6 separate regions of the Homo sapiens genome follow, and all the other regions are reported to be linked to region 1. Evidence: microRNA targets listed by miRTarBase, many of them from high-throughput screens and not tested one by one. Region 1 holds a microRNA gene; each other region holds the end of a gene's coding sequence.

Evidence for each region. Region 1 holds the annotated microRNA hsa-miR-324-3p (CCCACUGCCCCAGGUGCUGCUGG, at 1,269-1,291, shown strand). A microRNA usually pairs through its seed, bases 2 to 8, with sites in the 3' UTR of a target mRNA and lowers its output. Matches are read on the target gene's strand: a 7mer-m8 pairs with bases 2 to 8, a 7mer-A1 pairs with bases 2 to 7 and ends in A, and an 8mer does both.
Region 2: the mRNA of ZNF23 is a reported target of hsa-miR-324-3p. The part of its 3' UTR that is shown has no 7-base or 8-base seed match.
Region 3: the mRNA of ZNF432 is a reported target of hsa-miR-324-3p. Seed matches in the 3' UTR shown: 8mer at 3,246-3,253.
Region 4: miRTarBase lists RBM26 as a target of hsa-miR-324-3p. Seed matches in the 3' UTR shown: 7mer-A1 at 2,236-2,242.
Region 5: miRTarBase lists CACNA1I as a target of hsa-miR-324-3p. Seed matches in the 3' UTR shown: 7mer-m8 at 1,515-1,521.
Region 6: miRTarBase lists ATP5IF1 as a target of hsa-miR-324-3p. The part of its 3' UTR that is shown has no 7-base or 8-base seed match.

The regions. Positions count from the first base shown.
Region 1 is chr17:7,220,599-7,224,598 of GRCh38, reverse strand. It overlaps MIR324 (microRNA 324), which reads left to right and starts at 1,220; the gene lies at 1,220-1,302. ACADVL (acyl-CoA dehydrogenase very long chain) reads right to left here. Exons shown (of 20, transcript NM_000018.4): 4 at 3,923-3,995; 5 at 3,769-3,833; 6 at 3,541-3,675; 7 at 2,917-3,061; 8 at 2,518-2,647; 9 at 2,297-2,422; 10 at 1,734-1,932; 11 at 1,362-1,466; 12 at 869-955; 13 at 724-786; 14 at 530-631; 15 at 356-453; 16 at 206-278; 17 at 47-119. RefSeq lists an enhancer at 3,762-4,000.
Region 2 is chr16:71,444,527-71,448,633 of GRCh38, forward strand. ZNF23 (zinc finger protein 23) reads right to left here. Exons shown (of 5, transcript NM_001381984.1): 5 at 3,071-4,107. The coding sequence ends at 3,567. Among named protein-coding and RNA genes, the nearest start is that of TLE7, 4.5 kb to the left of the region's middle.
Region 3 is chr19:52,030,463-52,034,569 of GRCh38, forward strand. It overlaps ZNF432 (zinc finger protein 432), which reads right to left. Exons shown (of 5, transcript NM_014650.4): 5 at 916-4,107. The coding sequence ends at 3,258. Among named protein-coding and RNA genes, the nearest start is that of ZNF614, 4.1 kb to the left of the region's middle.
Region 4 is chr13:79,316,945-79,321,051 of GRCh38, forward strand. It overlaps RBM26 (RNA binding motif protein 26), which reads right to left. Exons shown (of 22, transcript NM_001366735.2): 22 at 1,924-3,766. The coding sequence ends at 3,677. Among named protein-coding and RNA genes, the nearest start is that of RBM26, 87 kb to the right of the region's middle.
Region 5 is chr22:39,685,802-39,689,908 of GRCh38, forward strand. It overlaps CACNA1I (calcium voltage-gated channel subunit alpha1 I), which reads left to right. Exons shown (of 37, transcript NM_021096.4): 37 at 1-3,934. The coding sequence ends at 604. Among named protein-coding and RNA genes, the nearest start is that of CACNA1I, 120 kb to the left of the region's middle.
Region 6 is chr1:28,237,573-28,241,679 of GRCh38, reverse strand. ATP5IF1 (ATP synthase inhibitory factor subunit 1) reads right to left here. Exons shown (of 3, transcript NM_016311.5): 3 at 3,580-3,843. The coding sequence ends at 3,702. Among named protein-coding and RNA genes, the nearest start is that of ATP5IF1, 3.5 kb to the right of the region's middle.

The DNA of each region.
Region 1 (4,000 bases):
TCAAGGAGAGGAAAGGGAGGGGCGGAATGGTGTAGAGCTCACTTACTGACAATCCCCTTCTTGTGTTTTATCAGCTTGGCCTCCACCACAGTGGCAAACTGCTCCAGAGCCCGTACTGCCTTAAGAGATGGGGACAGTGCGGGGCTCAGAGGGGCCATCGGCTGCAGTCCCTGATGCAGGCTCTCCTGGACCCCTGGCCACTTACCAGCTCGCCACTCCGACTCAACTCCGGGTGGACAAGTCCGCTGAGACTCAGGCCGCTGCCCAGCCCTGCCCGCCTGAGAGGAAGAGGGAGAATGACTGGTTAGTTGCCATACACCACCCTGCCCTCCCCTGGCTCTGGCCCTAAGCCTACCGCCTCAGCTGTTTGCCTGCCTCTCCTAGCAGGAGGCCAGCATTCCCAAAGGGATTCTTTAGAGCACTGCCAAGCCCAGAGAGCTCCTTTCCTTTGTCCTATGGGGGAAGAGGGTCCAGCAGTCAGGACTCACTGTCCTCCCCACCTCTACCCCCACCCAATTCTCTGTCTTACCATACAGCCCTGCAGAGCCACAAACAGCCGAAGAATGTCATTTGTCCCCTCAAAGATCCGGAAGATGCGAAGATCTCGGAGCACACGCTCTACTCCAGGTTCCTAGCACAGGGCCACACAAATTATATGCCCGTGCTGAGATGTGCCTACCCACCCCTGGCCCAGCCGAGGCTCTGCAGAAGACCGTCCTGTACCTTCATGAAGCCCATACCCCCCATGATTTGGATGCATTCATCTGTCACCTTCCAGGCTGCCTCCTAGGGACAAAGAACAGATGAGACTGGTTTTGGGAGCTGAGCACCCAAACTGGACTCCCTCCCAGCATGCCTGGGACCTCACCGAGCCAAAGATTTTGCTGATGGCGGCCTCTATCTGGAAGTCCGTGGCTCCCTGGTCCATGTTAGCACTCACCATGTAAGCCATGGACTGAGGTTGCATAGTTGGGACATGGGAAGGAAAATTGCAAAGGGCTTTGTCAGACTTGGCCTCATCACCCAGATCTCCAAGATAAGGGCTGACCTAGCTTGTCAGGTCAGGCAGATACTTGTTCTGGGTCAGTTCATCAGGTGCTTCCAGGTATTTGTTTTCTTAAAAGGGGTGGATGTAAGGGATGAGGTAGAATTAACTTCTGGTACTGCTGGCAGGCACCTGAGCAGAACATCATTGCTGTCTCTCTTCGCAGAAGCTGAGCTGACTATGCCTCCCCGCATCCCCTAGGGCATTGGTGTAAAGCTGGAGACCCACTGCCCCAGGTGCTGCTGGGGGTTGTAGTCTGACCCGACTGGGAAGAAAGCCCCAGGGCTCCAGGGAGAGGGGCTTGGGAGGCCCTCACCTCAGTTACATACTGCAGCATAACCATCCGTGCCAGCTTCTCCTGGATCAGCCCAAAGTTGTGAATTTTCTCCCCAAACTGGGTACGATTAGTGGCATGATCTACCTGGAAGAGGGTCCACACATCCCGCTGTGGTTCAGTGTGGTTCTGCAGTCTCCCTAGGAGAGGGGCTGGGCTTGCGCCAGAGGGATGGGTTTTGCATACAACCAGAGTTCAGTCTACGCTGGATGGAGACCTAAGCTAGCAAGTCGGGCTGCTGGTAGGGGAGGAGTTTCTAGTGTAGGGAGTGCCTGCAAGTGATCAGGGACACATGGCAAGGGGGACAGTGAGACTTCTGTTTGGGTTACCTAGGGACTCGGGCAGGGTACTCACCGCCTTAGCAATGATGCCTCTCATGGTACCTGCCAGGGCCGCAGCCATGCCAAACCTTCCATTGTTGAGGATGTGCATGGCAACCTTGAAGCCACTCCCAACCTCACCCAGCACGTTCTCCGATGGCACCCGTACTCCATCAAAGAACACCTCTGCTGTGTTTGAAGCCTTGATGCCCATCTTCTTCTCAGGGGGCCCACTGTGTCAGGGCAGTGTGGGAAAGCAGAGGTGTGTTCAACAGGTTGTCACTGGGGGAAAAACTGCTCCTTCGCTCCTTATGCACCAGGGAGGAATGACGACCACTAGACTATTAGAGGCTACAGCCACCACTTCCCCTCAGGCCCTGAGGGCTAAGGAGGCCTGGCTATGTCCTATTTTGTGTTGGACTTGGTTGCTGGAGCCAAAACTTTAGCTCAGTTGCATACATATTAGTCCCAAAGGCCACATTCAGTCCACCTGCTTTGGCTTTTGCACACGTCCCCAGGGTGACTTGCAACAGCCATCTGCCCAGGAGCCCAGTCCTGCCCCTCAGTCCTAAGCTCCCCCAACCCAAATTCACTCACTGGGTAATGCCCCCGAAGCCCCTCTCCACCACAAAAGCTGTGATCTTCTCCTTCACGGCTCCTGTGGCTGGATCTGTAACTGGTGTCTTGGCAAAGACCGTGAAGATGTCTGCTAGGCCCCCATTACTGTGGAAGAATGGGATATTCAGGGCGTGGAGGACGGGGAGCAGTGGGGCCTGGAATTGGGCGGAGGAGAAGGGGAGAAATGGGAGGCAGGTTGCCTGATCCAAAGCTTGCTTCCATTGAGGGTATAGTATTTTCCACAGGGGCTGGGCACAGCAGAGGTTCGGATGGAGGCTGCATCTGACCCGCTTGAGGGCTCGGTTAGACAGAAAGCGGCCACAGTCTCCCCTGTTGGGGAGAGAGCTACTTTACCCCAAGTTCTGATGAGCTTCAAAGTCCCCTCGGCCCACTTCCCCATCCCTCCAGCAGGCAGTTCCCCCTTAACACCTGGGAGTATCCAGTTCTTTTGCATGTCCCAACCAGCACACTGTGATGCCTCCCCAAAACCTTCCCCCAACTGAAATGCTCAGCCATCTGATAATCTAAGTGCCAACTGGCCTAATCTGTGCCAAGCCCAGTGTGCCCCCCAATCCCTGGCTCTCCTAGGGTTGCCTCACCAGATGCCAGCTTGGGGAGGTATTTTTCTTTCTGGGCCTTTGTGCCAAAGAGCAGGATGCCTTTGAAACCGATGCTCTGATGGGCCCCCAGGGTAATGCCCACGCCAAGGTCATGCATGCCCACGATCTCCACCAAACGGGCGTACTGGAGGGGAAGCAGGAATCTGGGGTTGTCACTGGCTGCAGGGGGACCTGACCTTAACAGGAGAGTGTGGGCAACAGGGCAGTTCCTGACCTAGGGCAGTTCCTGACCTAGGGCAGTGCCTGACCTGGGCCATCCCCAGTGTGTAGAAAAGAAGTGGGGTGTGCAAAGGGCACAGCAGAGAATGCTGGTCTGTCTTAGGTCTAGGTAGGAGGGTGACTTGCTACTAGTCAGTCTATTGTTAGGCAATCCCCAACTTAGAGATTTGTAAGGACTTGGGAACCAGGGTGAGGCCCATGGCTCAGGCCTAGGGGACTGCATGTAAATTGTGTTATGTTTGGACAGTTAACATCCATCCCACAGGCACCCAGGGCAGGTGCTTAGAAGAGACCTTAGCCCTAGTCTCTAGGTCTATGGCAAAAGAGCTGAGTCTGCCAAGCTGGGGTATGGCATACTGGGATGTGGCGATAGGGCGCCCTCACCTGGGTGTTGCAAAGGCCCACACCACCCAGCTCACTGGGCACTTGCAGACCAAAGGCCCCCAGCTCCTTGAGGCCCTGCCAAGTGGTCTCCTCCACCATCTCCAGAGCGTCATTCTTGGCGGGATCGTTCACTTCCTGGGGAAGGCACAGGATCCCACATCCAGGCTCCTTTTGAGCTTAACATCTCCAAACACCTCACCAGGGACCAAGCCCCGAGTCATTCCTTACCTCGAAGAAACGGGACACAGGCTCCACCAGCTCTTTAAGAAACTGTGTCTGCTCTTCGTTGAGCACTGCAGAGGGTGGGGGACAGGCTGGTCAGGCCAGGCTGGCAGGGGAAACCACCCTGGCCCCACCCAGCTCTGATTATCCCTTCCCTTACCGGACGGGTATGGGAACACCTGATCTGTGGTGAGCTGGCCTTTGAACATTCCCACAGCAAAGGACTTAGATTCCTGGG
Region 2 (4,107 bases), not on the chromosome of region 1:
TTCTCTGTTACCCCATTTTACAGATGATCAAATGGAGGCCCAGAGATATGAAGACACTTCAGACCTGTTTTCTCATCTGTGTGCAAAAAAAAAAAAAAAAAAAAAAAAGATATCCAAAACTTGGAAATGGGCAAAATGATGATTATGTGTCTTTTAAAAGTATATATTATGCATTTTCTAGGCATTTCTCCCCCAGCTGTCCTTGGACTCTCCCGGGGATAAAATTCAGTTTGACTACCTCTGATTGGGGCCCCACCCTTTCACAGTCCTGTGAACGTAGAGCAGACTTACAGCAAACTTAAGGGTGGGACCACGTCATTTGTCTGAGAAGATAACCCAACCTCCAGTCCTTACCCTAAGTAATTCTTCATCTGGCTGTTCATTTGTATCCTTTACAACAAAATGGTAATAGTAACATGTTTTCCTGAGTTCTGTGCACTGTTTTAGCAAATTACTGAGCTGGAAAAGGGGGTCATGGGAACCCCCAATTTGTAGCCCTATCACACAGAAGCATGGGTAACCTGGGGACCCTCTACTTGTAACTTGTGTCTGAAGTGCAGGGCAGTCATGTGGAAGTGAGCCCTTAACCTGTGGTGTCTTCACTTACTCTGAAAGTGTCAATTGTTAAAATTGTAGGGCCGGGCGCGGTGGCTCACGCCTGTAATCCCAGCACTCTGGGAGGCTGAGGTGGGCGGATCATGAGGTCAGGAGATCAAGACCATCCTGGCTAACACGGTGAAACCCCGTCTCTACTAAAAATACAAAAAATTAGCCGGGCGTGGTGGCGGGTGCCTGTAGGCCCAGCTACTTGGGAGGCTGAGGCAGAATGGCATGAACCCGGGAGGTGGAGCTTGCAGTGAGCCGAGATCAGGCCACTGCATTCCAGCCTGGGTGACAGAGCGACTGTCTCAAAAAAAAAAAAAAAATTGTAGGACACCCAGTTGGTGTCTGCAGAGAATTGGAGAATCGTGTGAAAAACCGACACATTTGGTATCAAAGGTCTTGTGAAAAGCAGTGTTTCTTTACTACCATTAACAGGTGATGACCCTATTTTCTCCATACTATTATACTGTCCTGGTGTACACAAATAGATTCTGCTGTATGATTTATTGAAGAAAACCACCATCTAGAAATGGACTTTTACTAAAAATTGTTCAAGGATTCTGGGACAATAACCTTCATCTTAACAAGCAAAAAGAGGGACAGAGAGAGATTTCGGATTTTTTAAAATCGGATTTCTAACTTTTTGAAGACCCAGAATATTTGGCATTACTGGAACTGCTTTGCTGCCTACCCAGAATTTGCTACAGCTGAGTTGAGGCTGCCTTCTTTAGGTAGGGGATGCACTCTTCAATTCTCCACCCTCCCTACTCCTTGTCACTCTGTGTAGCCTCATTCGTCTGTCTGACTTTGAGGACACTTGAGTATCTGTGGGCCTACAGGGATGTTTATGAGGATTTGGGGTTTGCTGGTGATCGTTAAGTCTCATTTACTAGCGATTGCTTTTCTCCTGTTTTTATCTGTGGCACGTCAGAAGTCCTGGAACATGAGGATCTGAAGGAAGAGTGATGCTCCCAGTCCAATTATCTTAAATAACTGTCCCACATTCAGAAAACCTCCAGTGGTTTTGAACCTCATTCTAAACTAAATGCAGACTAGCTTCTGTTCTAAGGAGCCTGGGGGCCAGAGACAGCATATGCCTTACAGAGCTCACAGGTGGGCATGGTAAGGAGATGGTGTGTGGCACTTGGGGGATGGCAGAAGTTATCATGTCCCTTTCTTACTACTTACTATTGGGCCTGCTGTTCTTCAGCTTCCTGATAGTTAGCTTGCCTGCTCCTATTAGTGCTTAGAATCTTTTTTTTTTAAGACAGAGTCTCACTCTGTCGCCCAGGCTGGAGTGCAGTGGCATGATCTTGGCTCACTGCAGCCTCCGCCTCCTGGGTTCAAGTGATTCTCCTGCCTCAGCATCCTGAGTAACTGGGACTATAGGCACGCACCACCATGCCTGGCTAATTTTTATATTTTTGGAAGACACGGGGTTTCACCATGTTGGCCAGGATGGTCTCAATCTCCTGACCTCATGATCCGCCCACCTTGGCCTCCCAAAGTGCTGGGATAACAGGCGTGAGCCACTGCGCCCAGCCTATTGCTTAGAATTTTTTAAGGTGTTGAGAGATTCCCTTCCAAAGAGTATCTTGAGGCTTCCAAGATCTTCATCAGAGACCTTGAAAACCACCAATGAGACTGGGAATCCAAGGTAGCCACCTTCCTTCAGGACCTGAAAAGCCATGTGTTTATGCAAGAGTTCCAGTTATTACAAAATAGAAACCCTGTAACATGCTATCTTGTTGACTACATTTTATACTTATATAAAGGGCATCTATAGTAAATGTCATTTTTGACAGCTGCATAGTATCACATGTATGCATATATAACAATGTAATATGCAAAAAAACTTACTAATTTTCACACCTTAGAGTACTGAGATTGAATACCTCTTCTTACTTTAACAGTCATTTTTTAGTATCTGTTTAAAAGCTGCCTGTTAGTGTGTCTAAATTATTTATCTTTAGATATTAATGTTTTAAGAGACAGGGTCTCACTGCCACCCAGGCTGGAGTGCAGTGGTGGTCATAGCTCACTGCAGCCTCGAATTCCTGGAGTCAGGTGATCCTCTTGCCTCAGCCTCCCAAGCAGCAAGGACTGCAGGCACATACCACCACGCCTGGCTTTTATTATTTTTTGTAGCGATGGGATCTTGCTATGTTGCCCATACAGGTCTGGAACTCATGGCCTCACGCAATCTTCCCGTCTCAGCCTCCCAAAGCACTGAGATTACAGGTCTGATCCACCATGCCCAAATACTACACTTTTATATCACAAATTTTACAAAAGTATTTCCCCATTTTGCGCTTTATCTTTTAAACTTTAAAACAAAAACATACAGGAATATTTAGTTTTTGAGTAGTCAATTTATCAGTACATACCCTGTGGATAGTTTCTAGCTTTCATCTAATACTTAGAAAGGTTTTCTCAATTACATGAAAATTAAAAATGTACTCATACCTTTTTCCTTTTTTAAATAAATCTTTATTTTTCATCTTTTCAAAAGTAATACATGCTTGTTGTCAAAAATTAAACAAATAAATTAATGTAGGTAGAGTATCTTTAGTACGGGTTTTCCTATCCAACAACAAGGCTTCTCTCTCTCTCCATTTATTCAAATTTCCTTTGTAAAGTGGCCCTCAGTGAAGACTTAAATTTCTCCATACAAGTCCTCCATAACTGTTTATTTCTAGAAAATCTACTTTTCTTGATGCTGCTGGGAACGAAATCTTTTCATTATATTTTCTAATTCCTGTTGGTACAAAACAAAGCTATTTTTGGATGTTTCTCTTTAACTGGTCATCCTTTCCTGATTTAAACTGAATAGAATAAAAACTGTTTCCATATGAAGACTCTGCCATATTCATGCCCTCTTGGAGGTTTTTCAATGGATGAATCTGATGATACTTGATCCATTTTGGCATTAACCTTAAGAGTTTTCTATATCTTTCTCATTATTAGGATTTTCCTTCACTATGGACACTCTGATGCTGACTGAGCTGGAAGCTAAACCTGAATGCTTTCCCACACACACTACACATATAGGGTTTCTTCCAAGTGTGGACTGTCTGATGTATAATGTAGTCAGAACTAAAGCTGAAGCCTTTGCCACATTCCACACATCTGAAGGGTTTCTCCCCAGTGTGGCTTCTCTGATGCCGAATTAAATGGGCATTAACATGGAAGGCTTTTCCACACTCCTTACACTGAAAGGGTTTCTCTCCTGTATGGATTCTCTGGTGCACAATATAGTTAGAACTACAGCTGAATGCTTTCTCACATTCCATACATTTGAAAGGTTTCTCCCCAGTATGTATCCTCTGATGCCTAGTTAGTTTGGCATTGATACTGAAGGCTTTCCCACATTCCTTACATTGATAGGGCTTTTCTCCAGTATGGATTCGGTGATGATCAAGTAGGTTTCTTTTAGAAGTAAAGCATCTCCCACACTCATTACATTCAAAAGGTTTCTCCCCAGTGTGAATTCTCTGATGCCGC
Region 3 (4,107 bases), not on the chromosome of region 1:
CACAGAAAAGCCTATCCTGAAAACTCTTCCTAAAATAACTCAGGTTACAATCTATGAACTTACCAGGCTTTATATTTCTTCCTAGCACTTAACTGAATTCGATTTTGTATTTATCTTACTCAGTCTCCTTCACCAGACTGTATGTCATATCAAAGCCAGCACTTTGCCTGTTTTGTTCATTGATGTGTCTCCATTGCCTACAACATGCCTGCCATGGTGTAGAAGCTCAAAAAATATTTTCAAAGAAGTAAATTACTCAATATGGAGTCAGGGATTGAATTCTGCCACAATACTATATGGCAAATGTCTATTACTTTTATAAAGAGAACTCACCATTTATAAACTGGATTAAATCTCATTAGATCAAGGGAAATAACTCTGGATAGAGAAAACAGGAACCCTGTTTCTAGGGAAACTAATAATTTTTTGCCACCAGGCCTGCTCAAAGAGAAATGATTAAGGAAGTTCGCACAAAAAGGAAATAACTAAAGGAAATATTACATCAGGAATGAAGAAAAAGGAACAGAAAGGGTAAATATATTATAAAATATAATATTCTTTTGAGTTTTAAACATTGGGTTTGCTGGTTGGAAGCAAAAGTTACAATTTTACTTGATATGGTTCTCAGTGGATGTAGAGATGCTTAATATCATTTTGTGTTAGGGGTGTGTAAGTTGAGGCCATGATCATATACCACCACACACCTAATAGGAAAGCTAAAGCACACTGGCAATGCCAAGAGCTAGAAAGGGCATGGAATGCTTACACATTGGTGGTGGGAATGTAAACTAGTACAGCCACTCTGGGAAAGAGTTTGGCCATTTCTTATAAAGTTAAACACATTTACCATATTCGCCAGCAGTCATGCCCCCAGTGTCTATCCCAAATATATAAAAACTTAACGTTCGCACAATATCGGGTACACAAATAGTCACAGCATCTTTATTTATAACAGCAAAACACTGGAAACAACCCAAATGTCCATCAACAGTGAATGGATACACAAACCCTGGTGCATCCATTTAAAAGAATACTAACTCAGTAACAAAAATTAAAACTATTTAGACACCTAACAACTTGGATAGATCTTAAGGGTAATTTGCTGAGTGAACAAAGCCCTATCTCAAAGCTTGCGTACCTTACGATTCCATTTTAATAGCATTCTTGAAATAACAAAATTAGGGTAATGGGATCAGTGGCTACCATGGGTCATATTGGGAGGACAGTGTGAGTATAAAGAGGTAGCAAGAGGAGGCCAGGCGTGGTGGCTCATGCCTGTAATCCCAGCACTTTGGGAGGCTGAGGCGGGTGGACCGCCCGGGGTCGAGAGTTCAAGGCCAGCCTGGCCAACACAGTGAAACCCCGTCTCTACTAAAAATACAAAAATTAGTCGAGCGTGGTCGTGGGTGCCTGTAATCCCAGCTACTTAGGAGGCTGAGGCAGGAAAATCTCTTGAACCTGGGAGGCGGGGTTGCAGTGAGCCAAGATCGTGCTATTACACTCCAACCTGGGCAACAAGAGCAGAACTCCGTGGTTTTTATTATTATGGTTATGTAAGATAACATTGATGATGCTAAGCAAAGAATACTCAGGAAACTTTTGTATATTTTGTAATCTCTTGTGAATCTAGAATTATTTCAAAACAAATTTTAGAAAAATAACATTTAAGGCATTTTTGTAAACTACATAATGGTACCTAGTAACTTGGATAAACACATCCAAATATACTGAATTACATTTATCAGTAAATTGAAAAAAATAAATTTGGGGCCTATAATATGTAAGAACTAATAAATAACACCAGATTGGCACAGAAAACACCTGTGTTATATATAGGATTAAAATTTAATCAGTGATAAGAACAGCCCGCTTTACAATTATGGAATCATTGATAATATGATGCAAGGTATGCTGTCACAGAATAGATATCAAGTGTATCATGAGTTTAGATTTGTGACAGTCCTCAAATATGGTTTTTTTTTTTTTTTTTTGAGGCAGAGTTTCGCTCTTGTTGCCCAGGCTGGAATGCAATGGCGCAATCTTGGCTCACTGAAACCTCTGCCTCCCAGGTTCAAGTGATTCTCCAGCTTAGCCTCCAGAGTAGCTGGGATTACAAGCGTGAGCCACCATGCTCGGCTAATTTTGTATTTTTAGTAGAGAGGGGGGCTTCACCATGTTGGTCAGGCTGGTCTCGAACTCCCGACCTCAAGTGATCCACCCACCTTGGCCTCCCAAAGTGCTGGGATTACAGGTGCAAGCCACCATGCCCGGCATTATGTATCATTTTCATGAGACTTTTTTACTTCATGAATTTCCTGATCCTTTTTAAAGTTACTCTTCATATAAGTTTTATTTCTGTATGAAGTAATGATGATGAGGCAGCATGTATCACTGAAATCCTCGTGTATTCACTGCCATCTGAAACTTGTTCTCCAGTATGAAATATATCTGCCAACTGTTAAGGTTTTATTTCTGGGCAAAGGCTTTCCCATGATAATGCTGCTAGTATGTGTAAGTTCATTGATGATCTATTATGATCACTGAAGAGATAGGGTCTTTCTTCCCATAGAAGGCTTTCCTAGCCTACTCCTTTGTAAGATTTATCTCAGTAAATACTTTTCAAGACATAGTTACTTAGAAAATTTTCAAGACTTTTCTGCATTGGATGTATCAAGTTTATTTCCTACATGTTTATTGTGACATAAAATATGAGGTAATTAATCACCGAAGGCACTAGTGCATTCTCTGCATTCATTAAAATTCGCTCCTGGAAATTGCATTGTCTTCCAAGGGTGAAAATCTAGCAACAGGCTGCTCTACACTGCCTATATGCATGTATGCTAGGAGCACACTGCTGTTTAATCAGTTCACATTACTAACGTGGTTTTCTCTCTGCATGAATTTGTTTGTATGTAATCAGTTCAGATTCTCTGCAAAAGGACTATGTACCTTACACATTTGTCATGTGGACGTTGTCATAGTTTTAATGAAGGTTGACAAATGAAAGGTTACCCCCAATCCACAGACTCTCTCTCAGATGAGTAATTTTCTATACATTGGTACATCAAAGAATTCAGAGCCTGAATTCATGTTGAAGCCTTTCTGACATTGATAGCATTCATCCTAGTGAATAACACTGGATTTTGAAATATGATTTTTCATACTCAGTACACATGTAGAAAATCTATACTGTGAAATCTCTGATGTTGTACAAGGCAGATTTTCTTCCCAAAGGCATGAACATGTCCACTGCATTGTCAGGGTTTGTTTCCATTATGAGTTCGCTGATGTACAATGAGATTTCTCTTTGAGGAGAAGGCTTTTCTACATTCACTGCATACAAAGGGTTTCTCTCCTGTATGAGTTCGTTGATGAACAATTAGACGGCTCTTCATAGTGAAGCCTTTACCACATTCATTACATCCATAAGGTTTTTCTCCAGTATGAACTTGCTTATGTAAAGCAAGCTCTGTTTCCTTGGCAAAGCCTCTTCCACATTCACTACATATACAAGATTTCTCTTCTGTATGAATTTGCTGATGTACAATGAGATAGCGTTTCATGGTGAAGCCTTTTCCACATTCACTGCACATAAAGGGTTTCTCTCCAGTATGAGTTCGCTGGTGTACAACAAGATTGCTCTTAAAGGCAAAACCTTTTCCACATTCATTGCATATGTACGGTTTCTCTCCAGTATGAGTTCGCTGATGTAACATCAGTCCGCTATTCACAATGAAACCTTTCCCACATTCACTGCACCTGTAAGGTTTCTCTCCAGTATGAGTTCGCTGATGTACAATCAGCCGACTCTTCAAGGGGAAGCCTTTCCCACATTCACTGCATGTGTAGGGCTTCTCTCCTGTATGAGTTCGCTGATGTATGATGAGCATGCTTTTCACAGTAAAACCTTTTCCACATTCACTACATAGATATGACTTCTCTACTGTATGATTTCTCTGATGTACAATAAGATTACTCTTCCTGGGAAAGCCTTTTCCACATTCACTGCATATGTAGGGTTTCTCTCCTGTATGAGTTCGTTGATGTTCGATCATACGGCTCTTCATGGTGAAGCCTTTCCCACATTCATTGCATATATATGGTTTC
Region 4 (4,107 bases), not on the chromosome of region 1:
AAATGTGTTTCTAGTTTCAGGTAGCATATTGGTTTGTTTTTTTTTTAAAAAAGAGTAAACTGAGATGGAAAGGACAATTTAAATCCATATTGGTGAGAGAACTGACTCTATCTGCATTACTAGCAAGTACTTCTACTTTAAAACTCTGAATTTAGAAGGAAAATGAAAAGTTACAATTGGAAAAAGGAAGTGCTGGTGAATACAGAAGTTCATCTCTATTTTATAGGCTGAATGTAATTTGTACTGGCAAATGCAAGCATGTAGGAACACTATACACAAAACTGTACCAAGAGGCATCATATAAATTACCATAACCAAATCCAAGTTGTTTCCAATGATAAAATGATAGAAAACAACAACGATAACAGGGAGAACTGGCTTAGATATATTAAATTGTTTTGTCTCAAACACTAATATAGTACCAAGGAAACTATAGATGTAAAAGGGACCTTAGAGATCATCTAGTCCAACTCTTTATTTTACAGACAAGGAAACAGCCCTGGATAAGGCAAGAGACTTGTCTAAGGCCACAGAGTTAGTTGCAGAATTGGGACCAAAAACTAAATATCATATAAACCTTGTCTAGTATTCTAAACTAGATCACCTTTGGATATAAAAATTAGTGGGATGGACTAGACTGGTGGCTCTTAGCATTTCTAATCATATACACTGACAGAAACCAAAAGTGTATTTTACCTCTGAAACAGACAACATTTATTAGTCCAAAATATTAATGCCTTACTAAATGTTGTGGAAATTCCACTAAGCCTACATATGTGTATACCTCCATCAGTACTTGTAACCCCACAAGTGACAAACTCAAACTGTATCAATTGCTTAGCAAAATGCTCCCAGTGACTGAGGAGATCTTCAAGAGATTTTTGGAAAATTGATAAGAATTAACAAGGGAGGTATTTGTCACTCTATGATTGGATATTTAAATATGCATTCATTCATTCATTAATTCATCCAACAAACATTTGAGTGCCCACTATAAGCCTGGCTTTGTGATAAGCACTAAAGATAAAATGATGAATAAGACATGGTCCACCTTCCTAGAGGAGCTTGTAATCTAGTGGGGAAGACAGACATAAACCAGATAAATTATATTACAATGTAAGTACTGTAACAGAGATATGAACAAAGTGCTGTATTAAAAGGGAGGGTATAAGTATGAACTGGCGAATGACCAAGTAGTCTGCTAATTTTGTGCAGTATCTTTGAGGCAAGAACTACCATATTTACTATAAACACAATCTCATGTTCCACTCCATCAATAATTAGGAAAGCAGCAGCATCAACGTAGAGTTAAAAAAAAAAAAAATTGGCACTGAAATCAGAATGCTTGCATTCAAATCTATTTTCACCCACTAGCTATGACTGGGCAAATCATTCCATCTCTATTAGCCTAAGTTTCCTTATCTATAAAATGGAAATGAACAACTCCTTCCTAAGTTTTAAATGAAAACATATGAAAGTACATGTAGAGTGCTAGTATTTATAAACAAGTAAAAAATTCAGTAGCAACTTAATACTAAGTAATATTTATAATTAAAATAATATTAATACTATGAATAATATAATTGTAAACCTAATTAATGTTGGTAAGATTTAATCTCCATTCTTTGGGATCACGCTGAAATATATTTGTCTTCTGATTCATTCAAAGCAACATGGCTTAAAACATTTTAAGTTCTAGGAAAACTGATTAGCTATTCATGGACTGAAATAAACAGAATATGTATTTTCAGTTACATTGTAAGGGAATTTTATAATTTTTGAAATATCAGGCTAAAACATACTAATCAAATTATAAAGCCAAAAATCAGCATGGAGATTTAACTGGCCTTTGAAAGATTTACTTTCTTTGTAATACCTGTTTGGTGTAAAGAGAAGAAACGTGAGCCTCTGCCAATTTGGCACCTTTCACGACTACTAAAAAGAAAAGAAAACAAACTTACCTAATGAATCAGAATAGCACATAGTCAACATACAAGAGACTACATAAAAATAGATCTTTGATTTAAATATATAAGTAAAAATAGTGACTTTTTGAGCAAAGTCACTATTTTGACAACTGAAATCTGATTTTGAAATTTTAAATATAAACGTAGACACGAATTGCAAGGCAAAGCATTTCTATGAAATAGTGTTACCATCAAGAAAATACACACAACTTCAACCCCAATTAGGGGTGTATGGGGAAGAAGAAAAAGAACAGCATCCTTAAGTTACTCCACTGGCAGAAGACTATGGTGGTGGTGGAACAACAGCTTTTGATTGTGAGGACCCCAATATGGAAGAAAGTAATTTTTTAAATGTGATTTTTTAATATTATCACTATAATCTCAAGAGAGGCAGAAACACTTGCAATCAAAATGATGAATTTGAAAATATAAATATGTAATCTCCCACCCCCATTCTACAAAGAATGCATTTATTTCCTGGAAACTGCCATATCAACTTTCAATGATCATGTTCACTTGCAAAAGAAATCCACTTAAAAAAATCACAGTATTGTTGCAAACATCAAAGATTTTTATACAAGTATAGGAAGTACACACTTAAAATATCAGACTGGAACACTTACCAAACAGTGTTTTCCTAAAGTAGTATCTATAGTACATTTCTTTATTCATATATCTTCAAATGGTCAAGTTTTCTTTCATACATCCAAAATGTAATGTGATGTTTTCTTATTCACCAAATGTTAGCTCTACTTGCAGTCTGGTTCCAAACTAATCAGCCTGCTTTTAAATTTTAAGACATTTGTTGAAAATTTATAGGATCAAACCAAACTCAAGTGGTATAATTTTTAAACATTGGATTGTACATTATTGTAAGGGTACCAGTAACCATTATTATTAAGAATAAGTTAGTGATTATAGCTCCTTTTGTGATAATTGGGGGGAAGGGTAGATCACCATCTGGAATGGTCTATTTTAATTTTTTTCTTTTCTTTTTTCTTTTCTTTTTTTTTTTAAATCAAGGAACATTGTCTTGGCTTTTTTTTTTTTTTTTTTTTTGTCATTGCTTTTCTCTTTTCTTTCCTTTTTTTTTTTTAAAGAGACCATTCCACTTTATTATAACATCTGGATGCATAAGGACTCATGTAAAGCAGTCATACACCATTATCATTAAAACCCATATGGTAAAATACATACACAGTCCAACAAAAGGCTAATACATAGTAAAGCCTAAGCATACTACTATGTAATATTATAATACATAACTTGGAGACTTTAGTTAGAGTACTATGTTATCTATTCAGTTTTGAAAACATTCATTAAGATTTTAAATGCAAATTCATTCCTTATTTGGAATAAAACAAAGTCCTCTAAGTTATAACAAGTATTGGTCATAAGTTTTCAGACCTATTCATTAAATTACAAAGAACCCAAAGAATTCTGTGATGTCCAGTAGAAGTATGTAATAAAAACATTGCATATGTTTCTAGTGTGATGTCTTTAGCAATTGTTTACTGAAGTAAAATGCAAACATCAATCTTTCAAAATACAAGATCAGAAGGTAGTTTTCTTCTTTTTTGTCTATTTGTGAAATCCATCTTCATCACATTTTACCAAAAATTGTTTTTACAAATATGTAAAAGTACATTAGATAATACTAATGAAACACAGGTAGAGTTCTAGCATATGCAGATCAATGATCAGTCAAATCATCTTCTCCAAGAACGAGATTCATTGTCCTCTTCTTCTTCATCATCATCTTGAAGTAATGAGTCATCCACCAAAGACTCTTCCTGAAACTTTAGGTTAAAATGTATTTAGGAATTTACCCAAAAAAAAAAAAAAGAAAAGAAAAAAAAGGTGACACTTTTAAATACTCATCTCTCTCAACAGAGTTGAATACAAAAGGTATTTTTATAGCTAGAACATTCACAAAACAAAGAAAAGCAACATTTAACCACTCAATGGTTTCTCTATATGATCTATTCTATTGCTTGCATGAAACACACTAAACAAATATCAAATAAAGCCTTTGTACATGCCATTTTTTCCTGCCTCTCTTTAGCAAATTACGCCATCTTCTGTACCTTTAAAATATTGGTCAAACTTTTTAAAAAAGAAAACAGTAAGTTTTCTCTAA
Region 5 (4,107 bases), not on the chromosome of region 1:
CTCCGCGGGCAGCCTGCAGACCACGCTCGAGGACAGCCTGACCCTGAGCGACAGCCCCCGGCGTGCCCTGGGGCCGCCCGCGCCTGCTCCAGGACCCCGGGCCGGCCTGTCCCCCGCCGCTCGCCGCCGCCTGAGCCTGCGCGGCCGGGGCCTCTTCAGCCTGCGGGGGCTGCGGGCGCATCAGCGCAGCCACAGCAGCGGGGGCTCCACCAGCCCGGGCTGCACCCACCACGACTCCATGGACCCCTCGGACGAGGAGGGCCGCGGTGGCGCGGGCGGCGGGGGCGCGGGCAGCGAGCACTCGGAGACCCTCAGCAGCCTCTCGCTCACCTCCCTCTTCTGCCCGCCGCCCCCGCCGCCAGCCCCCGGCCTCACGCCCGCCAGGAAGTTCAGCAGCACCAGCAGCCTGGCCGCCCCCGGCCGCCCCCACGCCGCCGCCCTGGCCCACGGCCTGGCCCGGAGCCCCTCGTGGGCCGCGGACCGCAGCAAGGACCCCCCCGGCCGGGCACCGCTGCCCATGGGCCTGGGCCCCTTGGCGCCCCCGCCGCAACCGCTCCCCGGAGAGCTGGAGCCGGGAGACGCCGCCAGCAAGAGGAAGAGATGAGGGTCGCAGGGGCCCCCGGCCGCCCACCGCCCGCCCCGTCTCACCTTCTTTACCTCAGGAGCCAGGAGCAGACAGCAATACTTCGTCCACACCTGGGATCGCGCAGGGCCCGCAGGGCACAGGCGCCCGACAGCCGGGCTGAGCGGAGTCTGGGTTAGCCAGGCCTGCGTGGCCCATGGTGGCCCTTCCAGTGCATATACATACATATATATATATATATGCATATATATATATATATATATATATATGTGTATACACACACACATAGACAGACATATATATATATATTTATTTTTTTTACTGAGAGCTTATGACTTCCAGAAAGTGCTAAAGGTGGGAGGTGGGCCAGGGCCTGGACGGGGCTTTTGTCTGATGCTCTGGGATTCTGGCCAGACCCACCCCAGGGCACATGTCCTGCGGGGGCGTCCCAGCTGTGTTTTTTGATGTCTCCTCCCTGGTTAAGAGTAGCTTGGAGAGGACCCTCAGGCCTCTGAGGGCACCAGGCCCTGGAGAAGAGGTGCAATTCAGGGTGTGTGTGTGTTTTTTTTCCTTTAAAGAAGAAACGCTGCTAAGATCCCACGTGGCTCCCACGTGTCGGGGTGTCTGTCCTGTCATCCTGACTGTCTCGTTATTGTGAAGTCTTTCGTAGACACCCCAGAGCACACACATCCCCTTAGTCCACCGGTTAGATGTCTCTCTTTAGAAAAATCAGGGGTGAGTAGCTGTGTTTCCTTAGGCCTGGGGTAGGGGATGGAGAGCAGCTCCAAGGCTGAGCTGGGGCTCTGGCCCCAGGTGAGGTCCCCAGCTCCTGAGCACTTCTGAGGGGGTGGGTTCCACCCCCAGGAGGGCGGGGGTGGGTGGAGCAGGAGTGGAGGCAGCCTGCAGAGGAAGGGTGCGGGAGACTGAGCCGGCAGTGGCTTGCTTGGAGGGGCTAGGGTACCCGCCTGGTCTCGGCTGGCTCCAGCTGCCCTGCAGGTGCCCCTGGGCTCAGGTAGTTAGTTGTTCAGCCACTAATGCCTTTTATCCCCCATATGGGCGCTGAGCTGTGGCTGTTCCTGGACACTGTGCTGTCCCCGTCCTGAGCAACTATGCCCCCGCCCCAGTAGGTTCAAGGCAAAGCAGCTCTGACCGAATTCTAGGCAGGGGTGGGGGCACCTGCCTGGGCCCTGGGTCCAGCCGCATCCCCATGCCCAGCCTTTCGCGTCACCTGGAGGCCACATCTTCCCACCCCACCTGCCAGCCCCTGTCTCTCCTCCCCGCTGCCCCTAACTGCAGCTCAGCTTTCACTATAGCAGTGCTTCCCAAACGGGTTCTAGACTTGGGTGTTTGATTTGAAGAGTTACGCATTTATTTCACTATTTATTGGGAAAAAAATGCATTGAACCCGTGATTTCACAGACATTTTGCTTAGGTCAAGGCTACTTTTTAAAAAGGGAGTGACTTTCATGAAGTCAGTTTGAAGAAGGAGGTTGGGAGCATGTTGGTGGCAGTGATCTGGAGAGGCTGCAGGGGCCACGAGTTTGCAGATGCTGTACTTCAGCAATAACCTTGCCTTTGCTAAGACCCCCTCCGAGGGCTTCAGGGGGGCCTGCCAAGGGGGGGCCTTGTTCTTGTTCCCAAACTCTGACTTGGAAGAACTCAGCTTGTGGCCGGGCTGGTGAGGGTGTGGGGTGCGCCCTTCCCTTTTGGGCTGAGGGAGAGGGGGCCGGGAGGGGTTGTCAAGCCCACCCGGGAAACTGAGCCCTGGAGAGGGGAAGCAGCCAGCCCAGGATGCTTCAGGGCCCTGGCAGCAAAGAAGCTGGGGTGGTGTGGAGGGCCCTACTCCACACCCTAGAGCTGTGATGCTGAGCAAGGTGCCTGTGGCGGAAGGAACTGCCCAGTCCTCCCTGGGGGCAGGTAGACCTGTGGGGATGGCTCGGTCCAAGCCCAACACTGCCCGCTCCAGAGAGCCTCAGCCCTGCCTCCCTTTCCACAGAGGTGGTTTTATGTGGAACGAGGTACCTTGTCTGGGGAAGAAGTGGAGCTGGGCAGGCTTGACTGCTCCTGGCTGACCCTGAGCTCTCGCAGTTGGAGGGAAGCAGACAGACTTGACTTTTTGCAAGTCCGCGTGTTGCTGGAGGGACACGTGTATTGGAGCCCAGAAGAGGGGCTGTGTGGCCTGGGAATACCATGTGGAAGGTTGGGCTTCAAGTTAACAGGATCAGACACCAGTCAAGCAGCCTCAGGTCATCTTGCGACTCCACTGAGCAGCCTTTCCTGTTGTCACATGGGTTCAGAGCAGCTGAGCAGGGAACACGTCCTAGGCAGGTCTGACGTGAAACCTCCCCTTACCCTGAACCGTGTGACTCTGCAAGCAGACACCTCGAGGCAGGTGTTCTAGGCAAAGGGATGGGCATGAGCGAAGGCTCCAGGGTCCACAGAGCAGGGAGTGTGGAGAAGGTGGAAGAGCTGAGCTCAGAGGCAGAGAAGCTCCTTGCAGGGAGCACTGGGAGATGGCCTGGCCCGTCCCAGGCTCCTGGAGGCCCCACCTGCCGATCCCAGGCACTTGACCTTGTTCCTGTGGGTGACAGAGATGAGAACCAGGGAAGCTGTGATCCACTGGCCAGGACAAGTCAACATGGGTGAGGGTTGGGCAAAGGGCCCTTCCTTCCTCCCCAACCCTGTGGTCTGGGGCCATGGCCTCAGGCTTGTGTCTATCACAAAAGCACAAACTTGCCCTAACCCACATGGGCCTGGCTGTGGGGAAAGTGGGGACCCAGGTCCCTGAGCTGTCTGCTGGGCTCCGTAGAGCGGTGGTGGGCAGGCACCTTGGCATCTGTGCAGAGACGGCCCAGTCTGGCCAAATCCTCTTCCTCTCCCCTGCTCTACCTTCTCCGGCACCAGGCAGCCCCTTAAAGGAGGACAAAGTGTGTAAAGCCCGTCTGCTGTCTTCCCCCAAATCCTCAGCTCAGAGCCTTCCGCTTCCAGGGCCAACCCCAGCCCCGTTTGCTGCGTTGTGTAAGGGCTTGGGGTCTTAGAAGCTGCTCTTTAGCCCAGATACACATACTCTTTTTTGTCTTTGTGCAATAATCAGTGTTCCTGGCAGAGCCTGGGCCAAGCTGCAGCCTACTGAGGAGGCAGAGGCCACCTCCTCCAGAAAGCCCTCGGCCTGGGCCGCCGCCGTGACTCTAGCACTCTCAGTCGCTGTACAGTTTCTATGGTGTGAATGAACTTCCCTCCTAGTTGCTGATGGCGCTGGTACCTGCTGGCCCATGGCCCGGGTGTAGAGAAACCAAGCGGCAGCCACCACCAGTGTTGTTTTGAATAAAAGCCCAGAAGCCTATTTAAGAATTTCTCCGTGTGTCTCTGCTGTTCTTTCCCCAGCGGGGTGGGTGTCAAGCTGAGGCTTCTCTCAAGGGAGGGGTGGCAGTGTCTCCTCCCCCATTTTCAGGCATGGGGCCTGGGGCGTCGGGGACCTAGAACAATGCTCATGGCAGGGTGCTCTCATGGCCGCTGGGTGGCTG
Region 6 (4,107 bases), not on the chromosome of region 1:
TTTTAAAGTGCTCCATTAATTCTGCGATTGTTAAATAACTTCACTGCATAAAATTCTATAGAACTCTTTCAAATATATAAAAAAAAGCACCCCAATGATTCTTTTTTTTTTTGGAAACAGGGTCTCACTCTGTTGCCTAGGCTGGAGTACAGTGCCATGATCACAGCTCACTTCAACCTCAGCCTCCCAGGTAGCTGGGACTGCAGGCCTGTACCGCCATTATTATTATTATTATTATTATTTTGTATTTTCTGCAGAAATGGGGTTTGGTCATGTTACCCAGGCTGGTCTCAAGCTCCTGGGATCAAGTGATCCGTCCGCCTTTGCCTCCCAAAGTGCTGGGATTACAGCGGGGAGCCACTGCGCCCAGCCCAGCCAGCCCGATTCTGACCCAGAGGGTTTAGAAGTTGCTTAGACAGATCTGCTCCTGTAAGTTCACAGAACTCCTCTGGCTACTGCTGTCCCTTTTTTTCCTGAGTCTTGTTTGCTGAAATCTTCTTGAGATTCTGTGAGACAATAGCCCCTATTTCTTCCAGTAAATTACTCTTTTTCTTCCCCTTTAGACAGCCAGTGCTGGTTTCTGTTACATGTAAACAAAAAGGATTTTATTTTTTATTTTTTTAGGCTAGTCAAGTGAAGCAGTGGGAGGCGGAGGACAAAAAGAATTTTGACTAAGGCAATAAATATATTATACAAGTGAAGTATTTCCCAAACTGTATTCTGTGGAATGCTGTGTTCTCAAATGTTAACAAGTTCCATACAAGAACCATTTATTTCTAAATTCTAAAGTCACATTCATATTATGAATTATATTAAACATATATAGTTACTTTTATTATACCTAATAATCTGTCTTTATAAAAGTGTTTACCCAAAAATGCCAGCAGATTCCATGAGAAACTACCTGTACTACAATGATCGTCAAACTTTGGTGCATACATGACAGAATCAACCGGAGGGCTTGTTAAAGGATTGCTGAGTCAAACCCCTCGTTTCAGCAGGTTTGTGGTGGGGCCTGAGAATTTACATTTCTTTTTTTTTTTTTTTTAGACGGAGTCTTGCTCTGTTGCCCAGACTGGAGTGCAGTGGTGCGATCTTGGCTCACTGCAACCTCCGCCTCCCGGTTCAAGCGATTCTTCTGCCTCAGCCTCCCGAGTAGCTGGGACTACAGGTGCCCGCCACCATGCTCAGCTAATTTTTGGATTTTTAGTAGAGACGGGGTTTTACCATATTGGCCAGGCTGGTCTCGAACTCCTGACCTTGTGACCCACCCACCTCGGCCTCCCAAATTGCTGGGATTACAGGCAAGAGCCACCGCGCCCTGCCGAGAATTTGCATTTCTAACAAGTTCCCAGGTGATGCTGACACTGCTGGCTCATGGAACCACTGCTGTAGTATTTTCCAAATTATCCTGATTCTAAGAACCACCTATGACCTGTGCTGTTTTTTCAGTGGTTACTGGCTCATGTCACATAAATTCTTTTAGGATTCAAACATGTTTGTGATATTACTCAGTATTTACATCTTGCTTTTACTGCAGCATGATAGAAAAATTAACCACAGGTATATCATAACAAAAAGACCATGAGTTACCATTTTCACAAAGTTCAGATATATTTAAATTAGCCTATTTAATCTTTTTTTGGTTGTTGTTGAGATGGAGTCTCACTCTGTCTCTCAGGCTGGAGTACAGTGGCACAATCTCAGCTCACTGCAACCTCTGCCTCCCAGGTTCAAGTAATTCTCCTGCCTCAGCCTCCCGAGTAGCGGGGATTACAGGTGCCCAACACCACACATGGCTAATTTTTGTATTTTTAGTAGAGATGGGGTTTTGCCATGTTAGCCAGGCTGGTCTTGAACTCCTGACCTCAGATGATCCGCCTGCCTCGGCCTCTCAAAGTGCTGGGATTACAGGCATGAGCCATCGCACCCAGCCTATGGTACACCTTTACTGAGGAAACAATTCAGGAACATCACTCTTAGTAAGGCAATTGTTGATTATAAGTCAAAAAAACACCATCATGTACAAATTCAGGGGATTTTGTATACCTTGTTTTTTTGGTTACAAATATGCAAAATTAAAGATGTTTGCTAATACTTGTTTCCAATTTTTAAACTTTTCAAGTGTTGCACTGTTAATAATGTTAAAATAAAAGGCATTTGACTTAGTATGATTGTTTCTTGAACTTCATCTTTTCAGGTTATTTTGTTGCTGGCCACTTGCAAGATTTATAGGCACTACTGAGGCCTCAGTGCTGAGATTCAGCAACATTATAATCATTATAATTCAAAGTTTAGTTTTTTGTTTTTTGTTTTTTTTTTTAAAGAGATGGGGTCAAAATGCTGCCCAGGCATGTCTGGAACTCCTGGGCTCAAGCAATCGTCTTGCCTCAGACTGCCAAGTAGCTGAACTGTAGGCACATACCACACCTGGCTGTGTTCAGTTTCATGGGCAAGTCAAACTATCTAGTGTTTTGTCTGTACAGACAAGGTCAATGCGACTTCTCCAAGCTTTTATCACTCAATGGTCCTACAGGCCCTTGTGAGATAGATAGGGTCTTAGAACAAATAACTCATTACAATCCTGGGCAAATACTCTACTGAACTGGTGAACTGAAAATGTTTTGCTAATGGCCCAAATGTCACCTCAAATTTTTTTGCCTAGAGGAGTTACACAACTAGTTTGTATAATAATTTAGTTATACTAGGCCCTCAAGTCTAATTTGAAACAAAATACTTGGCAAAGCAAAATATAACCTAAGAAATAATTCTGATTTTCTGCTAATAACAGACTTGGTTTAGTAGTCAAAAAACCTGGACACAAGTCTCACTGCCAAGGTGCTGAGTGACTGTATAAATCACATGATTTCTAATTCCAGTTCTCTCAATCTACAAAATTAGAACAAGGATGACTAGCTCATATTAAGTATCCTCTAAACCATTTTAAAAATGCAAAATGCTGTTTTAACTGATGGTACTTTCAATTGTATCTTTTTTTTTTTTTTTTTTGAGACAGAGTCTCATTCTGTCACCCAGACTGGAGTGCAGTGGCACAGTCTCGGCTCACTGCAACCTACACCTCCCAGGTTCAAGTGGTTTTCCTGCCTCAGCCTCCTGAGTAGCTGGGACTACAGGTGCGTGCCACCACACCTGGCTAATTTTTGTATTTTTAATAGAGATGGGGTTTTACTGTTGTCCAGGCTGGTCTTGAACTCCTGACCTCAGGTGATCCACCCACCTTGGCCTTCCAAAGTGCTGGGATTACAGGCATGAGCCACCGCACCTGGCCTAATTGTATCTTTTGAAGCAATGACTCCTTCGGATCTCCAGGATCCTCCTGATCTTTATGCTTCAGATTGGGATTTATCCTTCAGGAAGCTTTCTCTGAACACCTCTAATTAGACGGGGAGGGGTACTTTGTCTGTGTCACACCTATCCCCCCAACTCGTGTTGTTTCATAGCACTTATCACACTGTGCATTGTCTGTGGGTTCCTGGATGCAGGGACGCCTCTAATCCATTTTAGCAGTCCATTGGTGTCTGTCTATCTCTTCCAGATAGAAGAAGGCATCAAACACAGTTCACTGATGACAATTTATTATAATCTGTTAGTAGCACACAGACAAATATTAGTTAAACCAGAACCATGTCTACACAGAAGTGGGCAATGACATGTGCCATTCTATGGCACACGGTGTGCACTTAATCATCATGTTTTAGCATTTTGATCTTCTGCTTATGGCGCTCAATTTCTTTCTGCAGACGCTCAATCTCCTTCTTATGATGAACGATTTCTTCTTCATGGTGTTTTTTCAAAGCTGCCAGTTGTTCTCTACTCTGTGCTCTACAAGGACACGGTGGCTCAGGGTTTAATTTCAATCCTTCACCCCAAAGAGATCTCAAAGCATAACCTGTAATGTCTAAGCAAGGAATAGGAGTTCCAATTCCATGGGAGTCTAGCTGGTCATCCTCTTCTACTCCTCAACTAGTGAAAGAATACCCCATCTTAAATTGAGGTGTAGCCATCTTAAGAAGACCAAAGAGCTTATTGCTTTCAGATTCCTCTTTAAAATAGAAAACTCCAGAGAGATGTGACACAAGTCCCTAA